Linked DNA regions of Homo sapiens: region 2 is reported to be linked to region 1. The links are microRNA targets in miRTarBase. Many come from high-throughput screens and were not tested one by one. Region 1 holds a microRNA gene; the other region holds the end of a gene's coding sequence.

Region 1 (7,579 bases):
TCTGATGAGGTCCACCAAATTTATGCCACCCACTGGCCAGATCCCCGGTGGTCAAAGCAAGTCACAAGACCCGGTGACTCACAGGAGCCAGGGGATTAGTGGTCTTTGTGCAGAACCCCACCTATTCAGCAGTTCAGCTTTGCTTTAGTGGTTTCTAAAGAAGATAAAGCATGGCTTTCACTTTTTGGAAAAGCAAGGTCACCCCAAACCACTGGGCCGGTGAGCCACCCGCAGCTCTTGAGAGCTCCAGGTGCCAAGCATCTGCACACAGTGGGAGTGGGAGCCTCGCAGGGCAGTGCGGCCGGTACTCCCACGGTCCTTCCTGGCTCTGCCTCAGTGAAAGCCAAACACACTTAGAAAGCGCAGAGAGAGAGAGAGAGAGAGGCCGGGTACAGTGGTTCACGCCTATAATCCCGGCACTTTGGGAGGCCGAGGCAGGTGGATCACGTGAGGTCGGGAGTTCGAGACCAGCCTGACCAACGTGGTGAAACCCCATCTCCACTAAAAATACAAAATTAGCTGGGCATGGTGGCGGGAGCCTGTAATCCCAGCTACTCGGGAGGCTGGGGCAGGAGAATCGCTTGAACCCGGGAGGCGGAGGTTGCAGTGTACAGAGATCGTGCCATTGCATTCCAGCCTGCGCAACAAGAGTGAAACTGTCAAAAAAAAGAAAGGAAGGAAAAAAAAAAGGCAGCAGCACACAGAGAGAAAGCATCGTTCATTCTAAATCTCCACAGGAAGCCGCGGTCGTGTATTTATTCAAACATAACAGTCAAGTTCTGAGCCATCCTCCACGATGGCACAGCCAGCTATACAGTCCCACGCAAAGGCATGTGACAGCAGAGAGCAAATCCTAAGAACGTTCTGGAATCAGTCACTGGGACAAGAAAAGAGAGTTCTGGAGACCAAGGCCTCCCAGTCCAGAGCTTCTAATGAGATCCATGGTAGAGCCCCACTTCACCCCAAACAGGCCAGAATTTGTGCTGCCCCCTGGAGCCAGGCAGAGGAGACTGTGGGTGTGTTCAGGTGCACTCATGCTCAGCCCAACTTGGCACAGGGCCCATGGCTGCACCCGTTCCTACAGCCTTCTCCAGGCATTTTCAAACATTCTGCCCCATGGACAGTGCCAAGGAAGCTCAGTGCCCAGCTTCTGTCTATACCCTAAACCTTGTGGAGAAAGAAAAATCATACCACCAGACTCCCACGATGCCTGAATATGCCCAGGCTCTCCATTTTATCGGAAGAGGGTGCCCCACGCGCAGCCAAATTACTTTTGTTTTCAGGCTTCTAAGAGAACTAACACTACCTTGAAAACAACAAAGAAACTAGTGAGGTGGGGGGGGAACACCAGAATGTGGAGAATACCTTTTTCTTGTACGTGCTTTTTTTTTTTTTTTTTTTTTTTTTTTGAGATGGAGTCTTGCTCTGTCGCCCAGGCTGGAGTGCAGTGGCGCAATCTCGGCTCACTGCAACTGCCACCTCCTGGGTTCAAGCGATTCTCCTGCCTCAGTCTCCCGAGTAGCTGGGATTACAGGTGCCCACCACCACGCCCGCCTAATTTTTTGTATTTTAGTAGAGACAGGGTTTCACCATGTTAGCCAGGATGGTCTCGATCTCCTGACCTCGTGATCCACCCACCTCGGCCTCCCAAAGTGCTGGGATTATAGGCATGAGCCACCGCACCTGGCCTTTATTATTTTTAAACAGTATGAAATTTAGAAGCAAACACGTATACAAAAAAAAAATCCATTACATTTATTAATAATATATCTTAGATTCTCATCCTGTTCTTTTAAATGGCGCCCACTGGTCTCATACAGAGGAGCTGTGTGACTTTCTGGAATTATAGAAATATCCGCATCCAGCCATGTGCTGAGCAGACCAATGTAAAATGTTCAGCAGGTTTTCCAATGTCTCTTGGATATATTTAATCATCTCTGCAGAAGAACTCAAAATCTCAGAGCAGCTCCACTCCAGATCCAGGGCAGGAGGCAGCCTCCAGGGAGGGAGGCTGCGTTTACGAGAATCTGCCTTTTGTGTGTGCCTGGCTGGGACCAGCCTCTGGGAAAGAGAAGCACCAAGATGTGAACAGGGCTGTGGGCCGATGGCTTTAGCAGCCACATAATCCCTCCTTTGATGTCCAGGGTCAGTTCGAGCCTGGTCCCCCAGGCTAGGAGGAGACGAATGAAAGAATCTTGCTGTGGTCTTTCCTGCAAAGGAAACAGCAGTAACATTGATTACCCAGTCACCGGGAGGAATTCTTGTGAGCGCGCACCTCTGTGTGCCTTTGCTCTCCACTTTCAAGAGAGGACTTTAATCACAGGACAAGGAGAAGACCCAGGCCCATTTCAGTCTCCGGGACGGGTCACAGCGAGCCGTGTGACGCTGGCCTGCTCACACGTGGCCATGACACCAGCAGGCTGTACTCAGGCTTTGCGTACACAATAGCTGCTAGGAGTACCCATTTCAGACACGCACCCACTCTAACTGTTCTCAGAAAGTCTCAGCTCACCTCGCCGTGGGAGAGCTGGGCCCTGCCTCCCTTACACATGGGGGCAAACGGCCCCCTGCTGGCACTGTGTCCTGCCTTCAGGCCTGGGAGCTCTTAACTTTCTGCCAACAGGGTTTTCCAAGTCTACAAACCCCCACGCCGCAGGAGCACATGCAGATGACTGGCACCGTGCTGCCGCCGGGCCGGGGTGGACGCAGGGTGGACGCGGGCCTGTCTGCCGCGAGTGGGAGCCCCAGCTCTCCTGAGCCTCGGGCACTTACAGACACGAAGGCTTTTTGCTCAAGGGCTCGACTCCTGTTCCTGCTGAACTGAGCCAGTGTGTAAAATGAGAACTGATATCAGCTCAGTAGGCACCGGAGGGCGGGTCCAATCGACAGCCCGGAGAAGCAGCGCCTCAGCTGGGAGCTCCGTGGGCACCGTCTGCTGGCGCAGGAGACGCGAAGGCCTGGACTGCAAATACAAGAGAGAGTTCACCGCGCCCAGAACAACAGGAGCTCCTCCGAAAGCCCCGCCCCGCCCCGCTCACAGCCATGAGCTACCACATGATTTCACACGACTTAGGTGATGCATTTGGTTTTAGTTTTTTGTAAGAAGAATTTTTGCAACTTTCAATACATTTGACCTTTCAGACAGATGTCCGATTAGTGCATGTTTCTGTGGACAGACTTAAGGACTCAGTACATGGCTAGCATTCCCAGCAGGAGACAGTGCATCCTTGGGGTCAAGTGGTCTCTCATCCTCCAGGATCGCGCTCCGCACCCAAGCTGACTGTGCAGCAGCGGCCGGCCCGTCAGCAACGGCCTCTGCCCCAGCGGCTCCAACTTAACTGTCCCCATCTCACCTTCTCTTCAGGTGCAGAACTTAGCCACTGTGAACAAAGCGGAAACCAATCACTGTTCACCAATCAGCTAAGCTCTGCACCTTGTTAGAGAGGTCATCGCTGGGCATAAATAAAGGGACGGTGACCGGTGAGCATCTTCCTCAGCTGGTGGCTTCTTTTGTTTCCAAAGAAGAGCTACGAGATGCACCTGTTCTCCAATCTGCAGTGAGCGCGACCACGGTTTCTGGAGGAGCAGCCAAGGTCGTGGTTGCGTGGTAATCCCTGGCAATGTGATTTTAATCTTAAGTCACAAATCAGCATGCCAGGAACCCAAGCAGCCAGAGCACCTGAGAGCAGCGCCACCCCGTGCTGTCTGCACACACTGGGCTTCCGCGGAAGGACGCCGGCGACACTGCCGCCTTCACGCCTGTTATGCTAGCAAACAGGTGGAGTTTCTGTTTGTTGTTCGTTTAGTTGGCATCCTAGAGGTATAATTTCTTGAATCAAAGGGACTCCAGAGATGACCATAAAAATGCCAGTGCAGCTTTGGAACTGAAGAAAAATGCAGGGACCGGCCATGCGACACACACAATTGCTAAAGGCAGCTGTCCTTGCTATTAGTTTACTGCCTCTAACCCTTGGGGACAAGATCCCTTCTCTCCAGGCAGATTCTAGCTGCCCTGGGAAGGCTTTGGGGACTCTCAAGTCAGGAGGTCCCCCTGCTGGAAGGGGCCCTGGGACAATCCCGGCCACTGTTCCTCACGGGGACTGGTTGGGGGGCAGGCTTGCAACCCCTGGATGCATCTGGAGGGGTGGGGACAGGATCGAAGATGCTGGGGAGGGGGAAAAGGGAGACTTGTGACCAAGATGACTCCTTTGCCTGCCTGGGCAAAAATTCCCCATAAAGAGTGGCGAGGGGTGTGCCCTGTGGTGCTGCTCCAAAACCTGCACCAAAGGGAATGATGAAAGGACTAGCTGGCCTTGTAGTTTCACACACTTTAACACGTACGCCACGAAATAACAAAACGAAAGAGAAACACCATTTACACTGATTACTATTATGAGGCCGGCAGTGAGGTAAGTGCACAGTCTGTGTGCCGCCAGCCCGTCCTGGAGGGGAGCCGCGTCAAGTCTGCAGCAGGCGTTTCGCTACGAGACGCTCAGTCCCGTTTCCCTTTCCTGGCACACATGGTTCCTGACTCTTCTGGAAGAATATGATCATGCTTCTGAAAAACTTTTTATTTCTTTTCATTATTAGAGTTCTTTCAGATAAATAAGCTACTTAAACACGTTACACAGAAATGGTTTTCATAAGCACAAAACATTAGAAGAAAACTCAATGTTCAAAACTGAGTGAAGAATATCAACACCAAATATTCAATATCCATGAAAAATTATAGAGAAGCTATAACACGAAAAATGCTTCAGATTTGATAAAGTTTTTTTAAAGATACAAAATTAGACATCCCCTATTAATATCATATAAAACACTGAAGAAAAACGGAGCAGACACAGAAATAATGATGATTGTTAGAGAAAAAAAATCTCACAGCTATCCTAACAAAACCTTGTGTACTACCGCTAGGTTGCTTTAATAGTGTAGAAACCCATACTGAGCAACTAACTGCTAGGAAGTAAATCTAACAGGTTAATTCCAGGCACAATTAACAGAGGAAGTGATTTAAATAATCTAGGACTCCAATAGAAGCCAGGGGAGAAATTCCGCTCCAACACAACAAAGCAAAAAGTAGGACCTGCCCTCAAGACACAGGGTCATGGAGGCCATATGCCACGTGTGCTGTGTGCGCCGCGGGTGCTGTGTGGTGCGTGCACTGTGTGTGCCACATGTGCTCTGTGTGGTGCGTGCGGTGTGTGCTGTGTGTGCCGCAGGTGCTCTGTGTGGTGCACGCGCTGTGTGTGGTGTGTGTGCTGCATGCAGTGTGCGCGCTACGTGTGGTGCATGTGCTGTGTGTGCTCTGTGTTGTGCATGCGCTGTGTGTGGTGTGTGTGCCGCGTGTACTCTGCGTGGTGTGTGTGCTGTGGGTGCTCCAGGTGCTCTGTGTGGTGTGTGTGCTGCGTGTGCCGCGTGTGCTCTGTGTGGTGCGTGCGCTGTTTGGTGTGTATGCTGCATGTGCCGTGTGTGCTCTGCGTGGTGCGTGCGCTGTGTGTGCTGTGTGTGCCGCGTGTGCTCTGTGTGGTGCGTGCGCTGTGTGGTGTGTGCTGTGCGTGCTCTGTGTGGTGCGTCCTCTGGTGTGTGTGTGCTGCATGCAGTGTGTGTGCTACGTGTGGTGCATGTGCTGTGTGTGCTGCGTGTGCCTGGAGAGCCTCCTGCCAGCCGATGACCAGGCGTGGACAGCCCAAGGAACCTCCAATTCACACATGGCTAGAAGAAAACATCTGCTTGCAGAAGCTAGGCTTTGGAGTCACACGGCCGCTTAAACTCCTGTATCAGCCGTGACCCTGAAGACTGGACCAGCGCTTCTGCCAGGCTTCCCATTCCATCTCTAAACCTACTCAAGATGTTCCCCCACAATTTTTGTTTCAACAGATTATAAAACCTGAAGTGGCCAAAATAGTGCCAAGGAGTGCCGCTGTGCCTCCAGGTGGACAGCCTCTGCTTCCCGGTGACTGCCACAGCCAGGCAAGGTGCTCCAGGGACCCGGGGCTCCCATACCAGCCCAGCACCCACTTGGCCAGTTACTCTCCAGGCCCTGGGCCAGGGAGCCGACTATTGATGCTGCGGGTAGTCTTGGCTAACTATTCGGCTTACTGATTTAGTTGGCTCCTAAAAGGAGTATCTGGTTAGAACTAAATGACAGAAAGGAAAGGGAGAGAATCACCTCGTTAAAATAACATTTCGGCCACCACCTGGGCTGAGGACCTATCCATCTGCTCCTTGGTCCGCTCGAAGCACCTACGGGCGAGCTGCTGCTGTCTGGCGTCCTCACTCACCATCAGCTCCCCGTAGAGGTACACACCCATGGCCTGCAGGGCACAGAGGCCAAAGGGCATCAGGCGAAGGTGTGGGTACCCACACACACGCACACATGAGCTCAGTCTGTGCTTGTTCCACACACACTTGCTGGTCTAGAAATTGCAAAGACCCCAGAGAAGACAGAGGCCGTGGGCTGACTGTGCTTTTGGAAGCTGCAGTCTGCAATCCCTGTCTCCTCCTTGTACTCAAAACCCCAAGGAATCCTCAGCTCCCAATTCTCTACACAGACTCTGACGATTTCACTGGTGACAGAACGATGAGCAGGCATTCCCACCATGATGGCCGTGTCAGGAACGCTCTGAACAGACAGAGATGGTTCCCAGAATTACCACGCGGAGAGCCTGTGTGGCATTACAGACACGGGACTCCTGCCCCGCAAAGTGTGTCCCTAGGAGTAGCTGGTCTGAGCTCATCCGGGAAGTCCTTCACCTGCCAGGGAAGCAAAGAGCACAGCAGGCAGCAGCCGCGGCAGAGACACATCACGATGCCCGCAGAGACGCCCACCCCGCCTGCGCCCTTTCCTCCACAGCCCTGCACCGTAGCCCGCACCGGCTCTGCTGCTTGGGAACAATGCCGCAAACACTCACATCTGCATTTTTCCTGTATTTTTAAAATAGCCAAGGACGTTCTAGAAGACCCAAGGGCCCATCTGGATCTGTCTACTCTCTTGTGCCATGCTTAGTTATGCCACGAGTTACATTCCGCTGGAGTAAACTAAAAGAAGGGTCTCAAAGACATCGCAAGAGCAAAACTTCGTAGTTAAGGGTTCAAAAGTGCTTTCCCAAAAAAGTCCAGACATGGTGATCCTTATTTGTCAAAGATCACAATTCTAAATATACTGCAGTGAATTCTGGTCTTTAGAACAGACCATAAAGTTGCTCTTAAATTTTGTCCTTCTTATACTCCTGTATGTTTTTCCAGATACCTCTTGCTCTGCTGTGCAAATGTGACATTTCTTCTGGTACAAAGGCATGTACTTTTCTTTGTAGGAATAATGAGGCCTCAGGCCTCACTGGCTGGCTGTCCCCCACACTGAGACCCTATCAAAAGTCCTTTTGTTTGCCTCACTCCCACTCTCCACCCCAGCTGGAAGGCAGCTCCATGCTGTTACCCACAGTGCTTGACAGGCCACTCATTCAGAGGCAGAGGGGGTGGAGAGTGGGGAAATGGGGAAGGCGTGGGAGGCTGTGACGTGTTACAGGACACACCTGTTGGTGACCTGACACACTGCGGACATCAGAGGCGGCCAATG
Region 2 (5,622 bases), not on the chromosome of region 1:
ATTAGCCTGGGCAACATAGGGAAACCCCGTCTTTCAAAAAAAAAAAAAAAGAAGAAGAAAAAGGAAAGAAAAACACAAAAAGTGCTGGGATCACAGGTGTGAGCCACTGCGCTCAGCCCCTTTCTGTTTCTTTTTGTGATCCTCCCAACCCTCTTCTCCCTCTGAATCTGTCTCTGGGACTGTCTCTGTCTCCCCGTCTTCCCTCCCTTCCTCACCCTGTCTATCTCTCTCTGTATGTCTCTTGGTGTGTGTGTCTCTCTCGATGTTTTTCTCTCTGCCTGTCTGCCTGTCTGTACCCCTCTGCGTCTCTCCCCGCCCCCATCCGTCTGTGTCGCACGCGCACCCCCATCGGGCTTCTGCTCTTGTCAATTGCCCCTGGGGCCCTGCCCCCACCTCCGCCCCAGTTTCCTTCTACAAGCCTCAGTCTCCAGCTTTGAAAACTGGGCAGGCGTCCCCCCATCCGCACCCCCACCCCTTCCCCACGCATTCCCCGCTCGGTCACGGCTGTCCACCGGCCAAGCTCAGGCGCGTCCTGGCCCAGGGCCGGGCGGAAGGGAACCAGTCCAGGGCCAGCCAGGCTGCGCCGGGGGCGCGCGTCCGGGAAGCGCCCCTCCTGCCCCGCCCCCGGCCCCGGCCCCGGCCCCGCCCCGTGCTTGCAGTTTCCTATAAGTAGCCGGCTCTCGGTGCCAGCCTCAGCCTGACTTCAGCGCTCCCACTCTCGGCCGACACCCCTCATGGCCAACCGTTACACCATGGATCTGACTGCCATCTACGAGGTGAGTCCCCGCCGCACGGCATCCCCGGTACCTGCATGCCTGAGTCCGAGTCCCCACCTCTCTAGCGCCGCAAACTCCAGCCCGGGACGCTTGCCTCCCTTCTCCAACTGGGGCTCCCTAGCGCCGCGCCCTCCAGCCTGGGGCCCCTGCCTCCCGCTCAGACCAGCTTGGTGATTTGGAGGTGAAAATGGAACCCGCGACACCCGGCTCTTCGCTCAAACATGGGTGGGGCGGCCCATGCAAGTGGAAAGTCGGAGAACTTTTCTCAGACCGAGGCTGCCTGGAGGCGGAAGTGGCCCCCATACCTGGCTCACCCCTAGTCGTTGCTGAGGGCGTGGTTTTGCGCGGAGGCGTCTCTGGGGCTGAAGTCTCAGGGTGGGGGGATCCGACTTCTGTCTCTCCAGTCCCTGACCGTAGAGACAGAGAACCCTAAAACCGAAGCAATCCGGACTTCCAGGTCAACTTTGCCCGGTTTCTCCAGTTGTGAAACTGGAGATCCCGACGCGTGGGTCATATCCGGGGAGGACAAGAGACCCAAAATTGGGAAACAGTGGTGCGCCCTGACTTCGGGGTCCCCCTCTTGGTCCAGCCGGGGAAGCCGGGATTCCTGGGTCCCTCGGGATAAGGCCTCGGTGGTGGGTAAACTCAGAACCTCCAACTCTGGGTTCCTGGCATCCGGAACCCAGGGGTTTCTGCGGGCGGGTGGGGCTCAGGCGGGGAGCCCACAAACCGGCCTGGCAAGCTCTAGTTCCCTGCAGCTGGGGTGGGGCGTCGCCCTGCATTTTCAGGTGCCTTAACCGACCCATTTCCGCAGAGCCTCCTGTCGCTGAGCCCTGACGTGCCCGTGCCATCCGACCATGGAGGGACTGAGTCCAGCCCAGGCTGGGGCTCCTCGGGACCCTGGAGCCTGAGCCCCTCCGACTCCAGCCCGTCTGGGGTCACCTCCCGCCTGCCTGGCCGCTCCACCAGCCTAGTGGAGGGCCGCAGCTGTGGCTGGGTGCCCCCACCCCCTGGCTTCGCACCGCTGGCTCCCCGCCTGGGCCCTGAGCTGTCACCCTCACCCACTTCGCCCACTGCAACCTCCACCACCCCCTCGCGCTACAAGACTGAGCTATGTCGGACCTTCTCAGAGAGTGGGCGCTGCCGCTACGGGGCCAAGTGCCAGTTTGCCCATGGCCTGGGCGAGCTGCGCCAGGCCAATCGCCACCCCAAATACAAGACGGAACTCTGTCACAAGTTCTACCTCCAGGGCCGCTGCCCCTACGGCTCTCGCTGCCACTTCATCCACAACCCTAGCGAAGACCTGGCGGCCCCGGGCCACCCTCCTGTGCTTCGCCAGAGCATCAGCTTCTCCGGCCTGCCCTCTGGCCGCCGGACCTCACCACCACCACCAGGCCTGGCCGGCCCTTCCCTGTCCTCCAGCTCCTTCTCGCCCTCCAGCTCCCCACCACCACCTGGGGACCTTCCACTGTCACCCTCTGCCTTCTCTGCTGCCCCTGGCACCCCCCTGGCTCGAAGAGACCCCACCCCAGTCTGTTGCCCCTCCTGCCGAAGGGCCACTCCTATCAGCGTCTGGGGGCCCTTGGGTGGCCTGGTTCGGACCCCCTCTGTACAGTCCCTGGGATCCGACCCTGATGAATATGCCAGCAGCGGCAGCAGCCTGGGGGGCTCTGACTCTCCCGTCTTCGAGGCGGGAGTTTTTGCACCACCCCAGCCCGTGGCAGCCCCCCGGCGACTCCCCATCTTCAATCGCATCTCTGTTTCTGAGTGACAAAGTGACTGCCCGGTCAGATCAGCTGGATCTCAGCGGGGAGCCACGTCTCTTGCACTGTGGTCTCTGCATGGACCCCAGGGCTGTGGGGACTTGGGGGACAGTAATCAAGTAATCCCCTTTTCCAGAATGCATTAACCCACTCCCCTGACCTCACGCTGGGGCAGGTCCCCAAGTGTGCAAGCTCAGTATTCATGATGGTGGGGGATGGAGTGTCTTCCGAGGTTCTTGGGGGAAAAAAAATTGTAGCATATTTAAGGGAGGCAATGAACCCTCTCCCCCACCTCTTCCCTGCCCAAATCTGTCTCCTAGAATCTTATGTGCTGTGAATAATAGGCCTTCACTGCCCCTCCAGTTTTTATAGACCTGAGGTTCCAGTGTCTCCTGGTAACTGGAACCTCTCCTGAGGGGGAATCCTGGTGCTCAAATTACCCTCCAAAAGCAAGTAGCCAAAGCCGTTGCCAAACCCCACCCATAAATCAATGGGCCCTTTATTTATGACGACTTTATTTATTCTAATATGATTTTATAGTATTTATATATATTGGGTCGTCTGCTTCCCTTGTATTTTTCTTCCTTTTTTTGTAATATTGAAAACGACGATATAATTATTATAAGTAGACTATAATATATTTAGTAATATATATTATTACCTTAAAAGTCTATTTTTGTGTTTTGGGCATTTTTAAATAAACAATCTGAGTGTAAGCTGGGATCCTGGCTTCTTCGCGGTCTAGAGACAGGAATGGAGAGGGAGGGGGTGACTTTTTGGAAGCTGGGTGCAGTTAACTCTTCCTCTCCGAGCCCCGCGGCGCTTACCTGGCAGGAAGTGACGTCACCGGGCCTGGCCGTTCACCTGAAAGGGTGGGACCAGGTGAGGTCACCAGATGGGAACCGGGGGAGCCAGTTCCCGGGCGTCGGGGGCGCCGCGCTCCCGTCCTGCTGGGCTCCTTGACCCAGCTTCGGGCGGGTGCGGTCGGGGACGGGATGTTTCCGTCCCCACGGGGCCGCGGGAGGCGGGAGGGGCCGGGTGGGGAGGACGGAATGTGCTGGGGCGCGCGCCCAGAGCGAGCGGGGGCGGGCGCGGGGCGGGGCAGCCTGGGGTAGCGGAACCCGTTTCGGGACTAGAGGTTCCGGGGGGGCTTCGACACCTTCTGGATGTTGGGGAAGCGGGTTTAGGGTCTCAAGAGGCTAGGATCTCAACATTTGGGAGTCACAGGTTGCATCCCCTAGCGCTTTAGACTCTAGACCCCTGGTGGCTCGGAGTTGCAGATTTCTGGCCACCCGGGACCCTGGAGCCCGGGAATTACCGGGTCTTGGCATTTCCGAACCTTGGAAGTCCGAGGCTTCGCACACCGACCAGGGTCGGCCCCGCGAGGCCAGGGCGTGTGGGTAGGGGCCGCGCGTCTAGGAGGGGCCCCGGGGGAGCCGCGTCTTCAGACCATACAAGGCCAGCGTCGTCGGGACCAACCCCGGGGCCCCGCGCCCGGAAGCCGCCCTGCGTCAGCGCCTGCGGCTCGGCCCTGCCGCCCAGCCTTCGCCCCCTGCGACCCCTCTTTTTTCTCCTTGCCCCGCACTCCTCCCTCCTCCCTCTCACTTCCCTCTTCTCTCCTTTCCCTACCCTCACCCTTCCTCCTCTTTTTCACTTCCTCCTCTGCACCCTTCTGCCCCGCCCTACACCCTTTGCCTTCTGTTCTTCTCTCCCCCTCCAATTTGTCCCCTCCCTCATTACTCCTCTCCCACTTCCAGCCTCCCCATCCTGCCGTCTCTTACCCCCTTTCTCCTCCTTCCCGTCTCCCTTCTCTCCCTTTTTCCGTCCTTCTTTCCCTCTCCACCCTTTCCTTGCCCTCCCACTCCCCATTGTCCTCTTCCCCTCCTCCCCCTAGCCTTACTCCTTCTCCTCTTCTCTCTCCCTCTGAAGCCCCTTTCCCTCCTCTCCCTTCTCTCTACCCTCCTCAAGCCTCCCTCCTGCTCTCAGGCCTCCTTGGCCCACTCCCCTTGCTCACTGACATTTGGTCTCCTCTTCCAGGAAACTGCTTCCCTTGTGGGAAAGGGCTCAGGCCCTAATAAGTAGAAGAGGATCAGGCGAGAGGGAGTCAGAACCCCTGAGATGCAAAGGCAGCAGAGGGGCAGAGACCAAGAGCAAGCAGTGAAGAGACATTTGCAGAAACAGTCTTGGAGACTGAAAGAACAACATCTCTGGTCCTTCCTTTAGCCAGATCTGATTCTCTGCCCCTTCCCCAAAAAATCCCTCATATAAGAAAACGGCACTTCTCACCATCTACCAGGGCTTAAGCCAGACACCCAGGAGTATCCCTTGACACCTTGTTCTCAAATCCACACCCCAGTCCAACAGCAATCCTGTCTGATCCACCTGCAAAATAGATCCACTATCCACCTGCCCCCACCATGACCCCCACCCTGGTCCTAGCCAACATCGTCTGCCATTTGCATCTTCATAGCAGCCCCAGCCCCAGTCTCTGCTCTAGCCCCTGCCTTCAGTCTCTCCTTTCTCCACTCCCCCACGAGACAACCAAAGGAAGCCTGTTATGAGACCTGAGTCAGGTCACATAAAAGTCAAAGTCCGAAGTCCTCCCCACAGCCCACACAATCTGGCACCCATCGCTTACCCTCCCCCTTGGCCACTCTGCTCCAGCCACACTGGCCTCCTAGCTGCTCTACCAAGTCTGGTCTGCTTCATCCATAGGAGCTTTGCACTAGCTGTTCCCTCTGCCTGAACACTCCCCTGGTGTCCCCATGGCTCACTCCCCTCCTTCATGTCTCTGCTCAAAAGTTGCCTTCTCTGTGAGATCCTCCCTGACCACTGCTGTTGCAATCCACACCCCACCTCCAACTACCCCATCCTCCCTACCTTGCTCGACTTTTTCCATGACATTTATCATCACCACCTAACATTAAAATGTACTTAATTCTTATGTTGACAGCAATCTGCCTCCCCACTAGAATGTCGCGTCCTCAGGGGCAGGGACTACTTGTTCACTGCTGTATTACACACAGCTAAAGGAAGCCAGGCATAGTGAATGTTCAATATTTATTGAAAAAACAAGTCGACTC

Evidence for each region. Region 1 holds the annotated microRNA hsa-miR-27b-3p (UUCACAGUGGCUAAGUUCUGC, at 3,367-3,387, opposite strand). A microRNA usually pairs through its seed, bases 2 to 8, with sites in the 3' UTR of a target mRNA and lowers its output. Matches are read on the target gene's strand: a 7mer-m8 pairs with bases 2 to 8, a 7mer-A1 pairs with bases 2 to 7 and ends in A, and an 8mer does both.
Region 2: miRTarBase lists ZFP36 as a target of hsa-miR-27b-3p. Seed matches in the 3' UTR shown: 7mer-A1 at 2,871-2,877.

Annotation. Positions count from the first base shown.
Region 1 is chr9:95,081,313-95,088,891 of GRCh38, reverse strand. MIR27B (microRNA 27b) reads right to left here and starts at 3,447; the gene lies at 3,351-3,447. AOPEP (aminopeptidase O (putative)) reads right to left here. Exons shown (of 17, transcript NM_001193329.3): 16 at 6,173-6,317; 17 at 1,733-2,210. The coding sequence ends at 6,177. It overlaps MIR23B (microRNA 23b), which reads right to left and starts at 3,684; the gene lies at 3,588-3,684. MIR3074 (microRNA 3074) reads left to right here and starts at 2,798; the gene lies at 2,798-2,878. It also overlaps MIR24-1.
Region 2 is chr19:39,406,153-39,411,774 of GRCh38, forward strand. It overlaps ZFP36 (ZFP36 ring finger protein), which reads left to right and starts at 695. Exons shown (of 2, transcript NM_003407.5): 1 at 695-776; 2 at 1,591-3,255. The coding sequence starts at 753. The coding sequence ends at 2,547. It overlaps MIR4530 (microRNA 4530), which reads right to left and starts at 3,526; the gene lies at 3,471-3,526. RefSeq lists silencers at 289-738, 3,529-3,588, 3,939-4,258 and enhancers at 859-1,058, 1,109-1,746, 1,747-2,385, 2,386-3,023, 3,286-3,876 and 1 more.